Linked DNA regions of Homo sapiens: regions 1 and 3 are each reported to be linked to region 2. The links are microRNA targets in miRTarBase. Many come from high-throughput screens and were not tested one by one. Region 2 holds a microRNA gene; each other region holds the end of a gene's coding sequence.

Evidence for each region. Region 2 holds the annotated microRNA hsa-miR-557 (GUUUGCACGGGUGGGCCUUGUCU, at 2,520-2,542, opposite strand). A microRNA usually pairs through its seed, bases 2 to 8, with sites in the 3' UTR of a target mRNA and lowers its output. Matches are read on the target gene's strand: a 7mer-m8 pairs with bases 2 to 8, a 7mer-A1 pairs with bases 2 to 7 and ends in A, and an 8mer does both.
Region 1: miRTarBase lists PHIP as a target of hsa-miR-557. Seed matches in the 3' UTR shown: 7mer-A1 at 3,223-3,229.
Region 3: the mRNA of UNC5D is a reported target of hsa-miR-557. Seed matches in the 3' UTR shown: 7mer-A1 at 860-866.

What each region holds. Positions count from the first base shown.
Region 1 is chr6:78,937,346-78,941,414 of GRCh38, forward strand. It overlaps PHIP (PHIP subunit of CUL4-Ring ligase complex), which reads right to left. Exons shown (of 40, transcript NM_017934.7): 40 at 1-3,985. The coding sequence ends at 3,348. It also overlaps a transcript of IRAK1BP1 not described here. Among named protein-coding and RNA genes, the nearest start is that of IRAK1BP1, 72 kb to the left of the region's middle.
Region 2 is chr1:168,374,057-168,378,125 of GRCh38, reverse strand. MIR557 (microRNA 557) reads right to left here and starts at 2,602; the gene lies at 2,505-2,602.
Region 3 is chr8:35,790,242-35,794,310 of GRCh38, reverse strand. It overlaps UNC5D (unc-5 netrin receptor D), which reads right to left. Exons shown (of 17, transcript NM_080872.4): 17 at 1-3,952. The coding sequence ends at 3,748. Among named protein-coding and RNA genes, the nearest start is that of UNC5D, 560 kb to the right of the region's middle.

The sequences.
Region 1 (4,069 bases), not on the chromosome of region 2:
GAAAACATGTAAATGCTGCTAACATATAAGATAAAAATATTTGAATACATTTCTTAAAATGTCTGATTCCTCTACTGCACTGCAGATGAGGGACAGTTCTAGATGTTAACATACATGCTGCATAAAGATATTTTCTCTGATTACTGTATCTTATGTAATTCATTTCCAAGTGATAACTAAATTTAGTCAATCCCAAGTCTCAGATGTTACCTAATCCAGCTCACAAATATTCCACATACTTATTTACTTGGATTGGAGGAAGACAGTTTTATAATAATGCCAGCAGTCTTTAAATTTGTAGTGAAGTTGTGCAATAAAAACAATTGAAATAAGGCCAATCTTTAGTTTATAATACATGCAGAAAATAGTCCAATGCCACTATAGCAGGTCACAAAGGATAAAATTTTAAAAAGCTATGTATCTATTGCCCAGGGCTGTGAGTCTCTGATTAGACTAAATATTTAAACTAATGCTCCACTGAAACTTTTCATCTGGGACTTGAGAATGTTGGAGTTGAGGGAGAGAATACTAGGGTTGGGTACTTAGAAATACCTAAATTGGTTTACACTTTCCATGCATGTAAGAGTTATATTTCTGAACTTTCAGTAAATTGGAGATGTTTTTATTGCTTACCTAAGACAACTGCCAATATTTCTTTCTGGCCTATTAACAGTACATACATAGTGTTACTGCCTCAAAGAGGATTATTTTCCCAAGTGGTAAAGAAAACAAAAATATGGTGATGACTTAAATTTCTTAATTCAACTTCTGTAATGCATAGAAGCTAAATTATAAAAATATAAAATCTAAATATATTGGTATTACTAATACATGTTTAAGTGTTTCGGTTACAAAGAATCTGATCCAAGTTACTGTGCTTTACTAAGAAACCAGTGTCTAATAATGTCCAAATAAGGTCATAAATATACAGTGTCTGTAGAACAGGAATAATACATTTACATGTTATAGGAAAGATGGTAAATACTCATTTCTTTGCTTGAGTTGGAATTAACACATACACTGTACTAGAGGTATATTCCACTCTAAGACTGTGTACGCTCTTCCTTTTTCTGTACACAACTTAAAACTGTACATTTTTTTTACAAAAATTGATTTTATAGCCTATTATTTTTTTCTTAACACAATGCAGATAACATCAGGAAATTACATATTTCAAATAGATTGCCTTCAAAAGCAACTAATTAATGACAAATTTCAAACATACACTATTATTTTCAAGAATGGTGTAACTGAAAGACTCATTTTTCTATACAATCAAGCCATCCATTTCTGCATTATGAAGAGTTTAACTACTGAATTTTAATTTTATAGTTAAATATATTTGTTAGAAAAAAATAAATATACAAAAAACCTGAAAAATTTGAAATTATTTTTCAACTGCAAAATCTCAGCAATGCAGTCAAGATCTGGAAAATGGTTTACTTAATTTCACAGGAGAATTTCTGTACAAATTTAGTTACAAATGATCTAAAAAGCCCAAATGTATCACTTTTTCATTCTTCACGACAGTTAAATGACAGCTAATATTTATCCTTATCAGAAATAATTATGTAATGTATTTTGCCAAGGTTCAATTGCAGACTTTATTTTTCTACATCAGGGTCATGCTGATACATATTTTCCCCATCCTCACTTTTTAAAAATGTAGTATCTGAAAATTTTGATTACATTTTTGTACCATACCAGTCCTCAGAAAATACTACATTCTTTAAATTTTTAAAAAAATGGACAGTAATTTTTAAACAATAGAAATGGTAAGTATGTTGGTTTTTAAGGTATAAAATAACTAACTGTACCATAAACAAATAAATAACTGCTTTCCTTTTCCATAGCAGTACATATAGCAATACATTCTCCTAAGTCATATAGTTATCATTTACAATAGACAACTTAATTTTACTAATGATGCAAAAAATAATAGAATACAAGGCACAATCATTAAATGGAGTTTTTCTTTAGGGTGTATATTGACATACCAGCATGATAAGGATACCGTAAAAAGTGCAGAAAAAACACAATGTGCAATGAGACCACTGTATAAAACATGATTGCATAAAAAGTGATTTGGCCTATTTTAACCTTTAATAATTGAAAATAACCAATTTCCCCCTTAAAATTAAACTATAAAGTATGACATTTTAAAATTATTTTTATTCTACTGCTATCTAAAAAATCCTGAAAAAAGAATTTATACCTGGGTAATAGTATATAAGTATGTGTTTGTATATATATTTAATTATACCCATTTATCAATATATACACATACACACACAGACACGTTTCTTTGTAAGTCATTTTAGGCTATTAGATATGTCTAAAGTTTAGAAATGACATTAATCCAGATCAACAAGTAAACATCAAATCCCATACCTTTTTTCCTGTATTTTCCTTGAATCCTTTAACCACTTAAACATTTCCTCTAGAACATCTCTGTCAAAGGACCCACCAGTGCATTATTTTCTATTAGTACCAAAAAAAGATATATCTCAGCATAACTCTTTAATAACTTGCTCTTTAGAATATATAGCCTTTCCAATATTGAAAAGTGTATGCTGTCCTGACGTCAAAAACAGGCTTTCCACTGCACTGATTCTCAGTCTTTGGCACAATAAACAGAGATTGAGTGATATAAGAATCAAGGTCTGAAAAATTAGACAGTCAAATGTTTTCCAATGTGGATATGTTTCCCTTCATCAGTACATTTTCTCTTGTTTGGCAGAAATGGAATAAAGCAAAAGCCTCCTCTAGATACTTTGTAGATGAACATTCTATAATTAAAATTAAACTGTTTAGGGTATCAAATGGTGGAAATTTTATATTTATCTTTTAGAGGAAACATTTCTTAATTCACTGCTACTCTGTATAACATCTATCTTTTAGGGGCATGACTTGTATCAATAGAAATGTACCTCACTTGGTCAAAAATAATTCATTTTAACATGAAATGCTCTATCACTAGGAATATTATGCTCCTAAAGAGTGTAGCAGAATTGTCTTTTCTATAAATAAATCAGGAATTCATTATAGATCAATTTCTTTCGTTTCAAACAGTGAATGAAATGAATGTGAAAATGCATAACCTATCTAAGGGCAATAAATAGCAAACATTTAAAATATATATGTATATATTTATATATATATATATATATTCATTTAAAGAAGTGAAGTGTCTCGTAAGTTTGTTTTTTTTTTTTTTTTTTTTTTTGCAAATCAAATCATAACATTCCCTACTCCACCACAGCAGCAAGGAAGCAGAAGCCTTAGTTCTACTTATTCCTTAACTGTACCTGCTTTATAGATTTTGAAGTAAAATATTTTGGTACAAGTTACCAACCAATTAAATTAGCTTTTGCTTTTTCAGTCAACTTTCGGACTCGTCCTCTACTAGAAGTTCCAAAAGTTAAAGAGGTGTCTTCGAACAACAGCTGCCTTTGCTCCTCTTCAGAGTCATCCTCATTATAGAAAGCTGTCCTTCGACCTTGATTTCTAGTTCTCATGTGGGGTTCAGAGCCTTTGAGTTCTTCAAACTCTTCTTCCTCATCTATAGGATCATCTATCTTTTTTCGGTTACTTCTCCTTAACACTTTGACACTTGCAGGGACTAGGAGATCTGCATCTAATTTTTGTGTCTTCATCTTCCTTTTGGGCTTCCTACCTCCACGATTCTTTTTCTGTAACAAATCTTCCTTTACATTATTAGTTTCAGAAAGAAAATTGCATGTTGAAGAAGGAAGTACTTCATCTCTGATGGGATGCACATTATTTTGCTCTAAATCTTCTGGCTTTGCATACTGTAGCTTTTTGGGCTTTCTACCCCTTTTCTTGTGTATAATTTCACCACTATTGGTATTAACTTCTACTTTAGGTTTCCTTCCAGGTCCCCTCTTCACAAGTTTTGATGGCTGTCCTCCATGGCCATTTACTTGAATGGTTCCTGGTACAAGAGCGTTGTTCTTACAATCTCCTAAAAGGGAACAACAGTACACTTAATATATGGAGTTTCTTTTTTTGTTTGACTCTCAAACTTGTCAGTAAGGCCCCATTGGTA
Region 2 (4,069 bases):
ATCCTCATTTCTACACATGCACTGGAACTCACCCCTTCTTTTGTTTCCTTCACACTTCTCTCAATCTTGCCCTCAATTGTTTTCTCAATAGCTTGACCTCTTCATTTGGACTTGACCCCATGCCCCAGCCACATTGTCCCCATTCTGCTGCCCCGTCCTCATCGTTGCATCTTCGCAGTAATGTATTCTCTTACCAATGTTTGAATGGAATTCCTTAAAATTGAGTGCAAAGAGAAAAGAGACTTTGCATTTGGGGGTAAATTTTTAGCAGAACCCACACACTTTGCTACTATTAAAAGCCATACTATAAAATCAAATACTGCTCAATTAATATCTTTAAGCAAATGTACGCATTAACTAATCAACATCCATGAGAAAGAGAGCTGAGAGGGAAATTATGCATAAGGGCAATTCTTCTGGTCAGGTAGCTCTGATAGTCAATGAAAAGGAGGGTAGAAAACATTTCTGTGTGAGGATAAACAGCGGATACCTCACCTGCCAGGAAGCACTTGAAATTCACTCACTCTTTTAACTTTTTTTTTTTTTTTATGATAGGGTATTGCTATGTTGCCCAGGCTGGTCTTGAACTCCTGGGCTCAAGCGATCTTCCCACTTTGGCCTCCGAAATGCTGGGATTACAGGCATGAGCCACGGCGCCCAGTCCACTCTTTTAACTTTCAAGGCTGACAGCTCCTTAAATGCAACTAGGTGGTGATTTCTCTACAGAACTGTGTTACTTCCCTAACTAAAACCTTCCTTAGTTTGTTCCACTCATTCCTCACTAAACTGTGGGAAATAAGAATCAAACTTATCTCTCCCAATCATCTTCCAAATGGAAAGAGAATGACACTCCCTCTTTCAAAAAAGAAGGGGTTGCTTCCTGCTATACATGATTTGCTGTACGTAGATTGATCAATATTGAAAAAAGAGGTTTACATGCACAAGGAAAGAAGTTGAAGGGGAATATTTCCCTGGAGGGTTCATTGGAGGTATTTTTGCATGTGTACAAGTGGATTCAATATTACTGCAACATGATATTTTCAATTTATTTATAAGAGATATTTAAAAGCAACAGGCATTGTACTCTCTGGGGACAGAAGTCCCCCAAGGCCAATTCCTGCCTTCACCTTAGCCTCACGGACAGAGTTCCCATCCTGACCCTCTGTGACACTTTACAACTTAGTGAGATTAAAAAAGAAGGACAGACAGAATTGTGGAGGTTAGCAGTAATGGAAATTAGAAGCATTTTGCAGCCACCCTTTTATTAAACCTTCTTCCCTGGCTCTTCTCTCCCAGCGATCATAGTACTCGTGTGCAGGATTAGAAAGTTCTCTGGCACAGAAGCACCTTTCTGATATTTCAGTCTTCACCATTCATTCCGTTGACATAATTAAGGCTTTTTTTCTAGACTCTCTCTGAAAATGCAAATATCCCAGAGACAGAAAAGTTGAAGACATGCTAAGGAATCAAGGTTTCAATGAGATAGAAAATTATACTGGTCATAATATTTCCATGGTAATTTACAGTTGATTAAGCACTTTCACAGGTATAGCCTTATTTGATACTTACTAACAAACATATGACTTAGAAAAGCAGGACATATTTTTGGTATTATCATTTCCATTTTACATAAAAGACTCCTGATAACCAGAAATATTGACCCAACACTCCTATCCTATGCAAGTTAAAGAGCTGATTACAGACTCAACACGAGATTTCTGCCTATCCAAGAATGGAGCTGGCCACAGTCAGAGTCATTCTCACTCTTCCCTCTCCCTTGCCTCTCCTGCTCCCCACACTGATCAGTCCCCAAGTCTGTGGCCCCAGAATCCCAGCTGTGCCTGGGTCCCAAGTCCGGAGACCCTCACCAATTTTCTGCCTCATTTTCCCGAAGTCAGGCAATTGCCTAAAGGACCCTGGGTCCTGTCCTTCCTTCCCTACCCTGCACCAGCAACCCCACTCTATACAATTCAACAATAACAAATTTTTATTGAGTACCTACTGTGCGCCAGGCTCTAGGCATTAGGATACAACATTGTAGGATGAGATCCAAAGGTCCTTCCTCCCAATCAGGACTCTCTTGCTTGGTTACCTGCCAGAGTTCTATGGATCTTTATTTCAGTGGTGAAGGTAATGATAATGCCTAAGAGTTGCTGGAGAAATTACAATGCATGAGTGACTATTCTCAGCATTTGACTTATGGTAACTCATCCAATCCTTATAACAGCCCTATGAGGTATTATTCATATTTAACAAATGAGAAAACTGAGACAGAAGGAGGTTGCCTAGTAAGACTGCACACCTAGTAAGAGGCAGAGCAGAGGTAGACAGAGGAACCTGGCTCGCAGTCTACACCCTTATCTCTTAGGCTAAGCTGTAAACTGGTGGAAGCAGTGGAAAGAGAAACAACCTTTAAACCAGTATGTATTAATATAATACTTCTCTGTGCTCAGGCTAGGAAGATAGAAATGAATCTAAGTGCCTCATAGAAGGAGCTTCCTTTCTCCACCTCCTTTCAAAGACAAGGCCCACCCGTGCAAACACTTCTCCAGCAGCAGGGAGGGCCCCAGGCCTCCAAATTTACTGTTCATTTGCCCATTCTGTCTGCACACCCTTGATCTGGCCCTGCCTTTCTGATCACCACTAATGCTGGGCCCTGGCTCCCAAGAATCTCCCAAAGCCCCCTTGGTCCGATAACACTTTGGCTGTGTGCCTCCAACTCAACCCAACACTCTGAGACCCATTTCTGATCATCAGCTCTCAGCCTTCACACTCTCTGACTTATGTAATAGGTCAGCCCATCCCAAATTAACCTGCACCTTCCCCCACCTGGAAGTGGGTTAAAATACTAGCTCAGACTTACTACCTATCAGCACAATATGCATGCTTGACTCATATTTGTTCCTTTGATTCACTTTCATTCATTTATCCCTTCAACAAATAATGTGCACCTACTATGGGCTAGGCATGTATAACATACTTTACATGCATTGTACCTTTAAATTCTCCCAAGGACACCATTAGGTTTCTATACTTCCATTTTATACATGATAAAGCTGAGTTCTCAGCACTTTTATCAAAGAAGAATTTGCTATCCACGAGCAACTTGAGGTGGGCCTACCTTTCACCTTCCCGCCCCAGGCCTTCAACAGGCACTCGGCAGACAGTTGTTAAATTGCGCTGGATTAACAAGCCAGCTGGGCACTGTGTGCAGCCTACCTCCTGATGACCCCCAGTGGAGATCTTGCTGTTCAGGGCCCTCTCTTGTTCATATTCACTTAGTAAAAATTGGCCTGGATGTCTCCTGCATTATCAGCAACCACCAGGCACAGTACCCAAGCTTTGCAAACTAGGAATGTTTAAAAATTTAGCTCTTGCCACATCTCTAGCAGAACAGAACCAAAAGCAATCATCTGACGTTAGGAGGTGCCACACACAAGCAATGAGGACCTCTGCCAGCCCAGCTTCCTCCTGGGGAGGTGAGCTTTCTGCCTGGGCACATGGAAAAATAACATGTATGATATGTGCTCTTTTCTTTGCCCTGGAGGCCTTGACAGCCGTCAGCTCTGTTCTGACAGGTCCTAACCATAATGAACCAGTAATGCTTCTTCAGGTCCTTGCTAAGCATTAGATCCCTAGGTGATGCTATGTACCAGGGGAGATCACCCAGAGACTCTGATCCCAAGGCAGCAGCCTTATTGGGGGATTTTAGCCCAGGATTTTCTCCAAACACAGGGGCACTAAAAGTCAGGCCTGACCTGACTGGAGGGTTTAGAATTCAGAGCCAATTGACCAAACACCTCCAAAGAGAAAAGCAAATGGTTTTCTAAAGACAGTGGTTCTTGCTGTTTCCTCTTAGGACTCCATTAATAAAATAATAATAAAAATAAAGTCTCATTAAAAGAAGATATTTAGTGCTCGCTTCAGCACACATATACTAAAAAAGAACATATTTAGAACAATTATTCCCTTCAGCAGGTTGTAATTCCTGTAACTCTCAGGGAACAGCTTTGGGCTCTGCATCGCGACTCCCACGCAGGACACAATCTGTCTGTCTAGAAGGGAATGA
Region 3 (4,069 bases), not on the chromosome of region 2:
GATTCCTGTGACCTTTACAGAGCTGGAACAGAGACCTCTGCGAGAACTTTGCCTTCAATACATCTGATAGCTATATCACTCAACACATTTACAGAGGGCAGAGGGACTAAGAAATTGAAGAGAAAATGGCTAAAAGGAAAAACAAAAGCATATCAAGAGATTTTATAACATTTTGAAATTCACAGGTAAATTTGCCAGAAGTTTGGCAGTAGAAGATATTATCTAAAACCAATTATCCTATTTTAATCATCTACATTTGTTTATCAATCCTGATGCTGAGAATGTTTCTCAAGGAAAATAGTTGCAATAAATCCAGAACTTTTAATCCAAAGAGAACCCTGTTTTAGTGATTTGACTTAACATCCCCTCCCAAAGACAACTGAAAGAAAAATACAGAGACCTTGGCAAAAGACACCACCTGCAGTTGGAGATAAAAATAATAATAAAAAAGTTCTTCTCTTTAAAGAGAACTGTGTCAATTCTTTTTCATCTCTTACAAAAAGGCCAATAAAATTTTTGTGGGAGTACATCTGAGTTTTATGAGACTTCCTGCACTGGTAAATGAAGTTTGCATTTAAATCCATAGAGCAAGCTTCCTTTTGGCTTAAAGGATTTTAATGTAAACCAGTAAGAATGTAGAAGCAATGTTGTAAAAACTGTAAATTAACTTTATGATGCTACAGTCTGGTGAATCTGTGAAGTGCACCATTTTGGTGGCATAATTTAAAGCCATATTTAAAGCATGACTATTGGACTTAAATGCCTTTGAGGACTGAAAGATTTGGCATTGAGTGGGATATTTTTGTAAAAATTTTAAGTAACTTACCAAGTACTCGAGGCCACTTTTAATTTTGTTTCATTTTGCAATAGGACAATAAAATTTCCAAATTAAGTGCTTGGATAGATGAGTAAATCTCTTTCAAGAGGGGTATTTGTGTTGTGACAGGCACATATTACAATAGGACTAAATTTAGGTCACAGTGAATAACTAAGTTCAAGTGTAAGCTCACTTTTTATCTGATCTGCAATTCTACCTCCTCCACCACACCTTGGTCTGTAAATCTCACAAATGTGGGTTCTCTTTGAAATTGTATTGTAACATACTGTGCAATCCTGACATGCAGTGACCACAGAATTTCATACATTTCTATAGAAATCCTATGTAGGATCCTAGCAGCAATAAGTAAAAGAAACATAAAGAAGAAACAAGACAGGCTGAAGGATGAATTTGATTGAATCTTAGGCTGAAGTCTGAGGTGAATTAAGTTAACTTCCTCCTTTGTTATCCTATATGATATGATGTTCAAGTTGTTTATAAAACCCAGGCCAAAGGAAAAAAAAATCCATGGGAGGTAACTCCAGACATTCAGGGATTGACAATAATCTTGTCTCATCTTAAAATAATCTAGATAGATTTGAGGGAAAATCATTTAGAATTTTCATCTATTTAAAAATACTTAAAATGTATCAAACATCTAAAAAAAAAGACCTATGTAGATTCACAGAGTAGATGAAACAATTATAATGCCCATTAGAAGGGAAGAGGGAAAATGCTAAAGACAGTTTAAAACAAAAATCCTCCAAGATGGATTCCAACATAAGCTCTATAATGTGCTTTCTACAAGTTTTTACTCAATAGTGAATGCAGCTTTCCTCTGCACACCACCTCATGCCAACCAACTAGTGACTGGTTGACCATCTACTTCTCTTTCTCTTTCAGAAATTCTATCAGTGATGCCAGATGATTTACATTTTCATGCTGTTTATCTATTGTTTCCTAGAAGAAATAAATAAGTTAAGCACACTAGCAAAAGGGTGTTTTCCTGATCTTGACATGGTATTGTGAAAATATGCTTGACAGTTCTAAGATGATTTCTTTGTCCTACATCATAAGCCTTTGGTTCCTGAGAAAAGCGAGATGCTTTTGAATTACATGTAGCAAAGACTTCTATCTAATATAGGGGACCATACATACCACATGTTAGTTAGAGAAAATGGCCAACACATTCAAGAGTTCTTCCATGCCTTACCCATGGTATCACAAATTCAACTCATCTTTAGGCCTTTTTCACTTGGCATGGAGATTCACAACATTATTATTATTATTTTACAAGGGATCTACAAAAAACTTGTTTAAAAAAATGGATCATATCCCAACTGCCAAGTACTCCCCAACTCCCCACCTCCCCCATTCCCTGACTACTTTTTATTCGAATGTAACCAACCTCTAAGTAGCTGACTAGCTGCCTTGTGGTTCATCTGGGTCCTTGACTTTGGTTGTCCTGATTGTGAATAGCAAGTTAAAATATCCACCAGAAGATGAGCAAGAGCAAATCTGTTCACCTTTAGTCTACCAGGACATCTTGTCAAAAATAATTTAATAGGATAAAAAGATGGAGTAAAGTGATAAGATGAGGGTCATGAATTATCTGTGGATTTCAATCTTCCACAATATCACTGCCTCCTAATGTAAAAAAAAAAATCATAGAGCAATAGCCATATGTTAGTGGTTCTATAGAGAAAGCATATTCAGGGAGGCTGAATAGTCACAGGGTGAAGGCTTCCTGAATGATGCATGTGGTTTCAGGGACACTGTGGTAGAGGATTCCTCAAGTCTATTTACTCAGATATCATTTAGAGCAAAGACTATCTGCTAATTTCCCAAGAGGCAAAATGAGGATCACATATAGCCTTACTGAGAGATTTTGTGATGACACAGTACCCACATGTTAGACAATTTCAAGAATCTGGATTGAAAAATGCAGTAAACTCATTTTCTTATAACAACAATGTTAGATAACTAGATCAACACGTGTCTCCTAGAATTACAGCTGATTTGAGGCCTATGGCATCTGCAGTTCATGTGTTTTTGAACCTGCTTTAATCTCTCCTGTCCCCATATCCATGTAATAAGCTGTGTTCTAATAGCACTCAGCAATTTGAGTGGCTTAGATGGGAATAGAGATGGTCCCACTTTGTTGTGTTAGAAAAAACAACTTTCCGTATTGACAAGTTTAATTATGCTCCTTGATACCTCCCTACTGCAAGGGGTAAGGAAGAGGAAGAAAGAATAAGGGTAGATTTGTCTCAGGAAAAAAGTAAAAGGTGGAGTACACTATAAGAACTAGTTTGTGGTCTGTCTTACCTCTCCATTGTGTCTCCATTAAGTGGCTAGAAGAGACAGGGAGCTGGTGCTGGTGTGATGTGCTCAGATTCTAAATTCTAAATGCCCTCCTTGACGTTGTTGAAGTCATACAAATGGGTTGGCAACCCTGTTTCACGTCTAAAAGCCATTTTTACAATGATCTCTGACATCACAGATGCCAGTTGGTAGAAAACTCTGACAATCTAGTACCAGAATCAGCTGGCCCTTTGGGGCACATCATTAAAAACCTATTTCAAAGCATGCACTTAATCAATCTCTGCCTTCCCAGCATTATCATAGCTCATCTTTTCCCACAGCTACTTCTGCCCTCACTTTTATCCTTGCCACTCCAAATCTGAGGAGTTAACCCAAATGTGGATTCCAAGGAGATAGTAGAGCCCTCTTATATGTAAGAGAGCTTGTACTCTTCCCTATTAACATGTTTTACCTATATAAAATTTAGTTTCTTCAACAGGGGAATCTCACTGATTATAAATGAAGGCTGAATTCCCCCAACGCCACTGGGCAGAAAGCGGCCTCTTTCCCATTTAAAGCAAATGTCCCCAAGCTGGCCATCACTCTGTCTCATGGGAGGAAGTGGACTAGAGTCCATTTTGCCTGCTGTAGTTGAAGTCGGCTTCATCAAGCTGGGATTCTGAAATGTTTGAGAGTTTCGTGTGTGTCCTCCCAATCTCTTCAAGGGCACAGGCCAGGGAGTCAAGATCACCATCATGCTGATGACGAGCTTCCCACAGGTTCAAAATGACAGCAGATGGGCTACTTTGTGTAGCGAAATAAGATAAATTCCTAGATGGAGAGAGTTAAACACAAAGAACAAAACGAAACATGAAAATAAAGGAATAAACACTGATCACCATAAGAGAATTAAAAATGAATTTTAATAGATGTTATTATAGTAGGGAT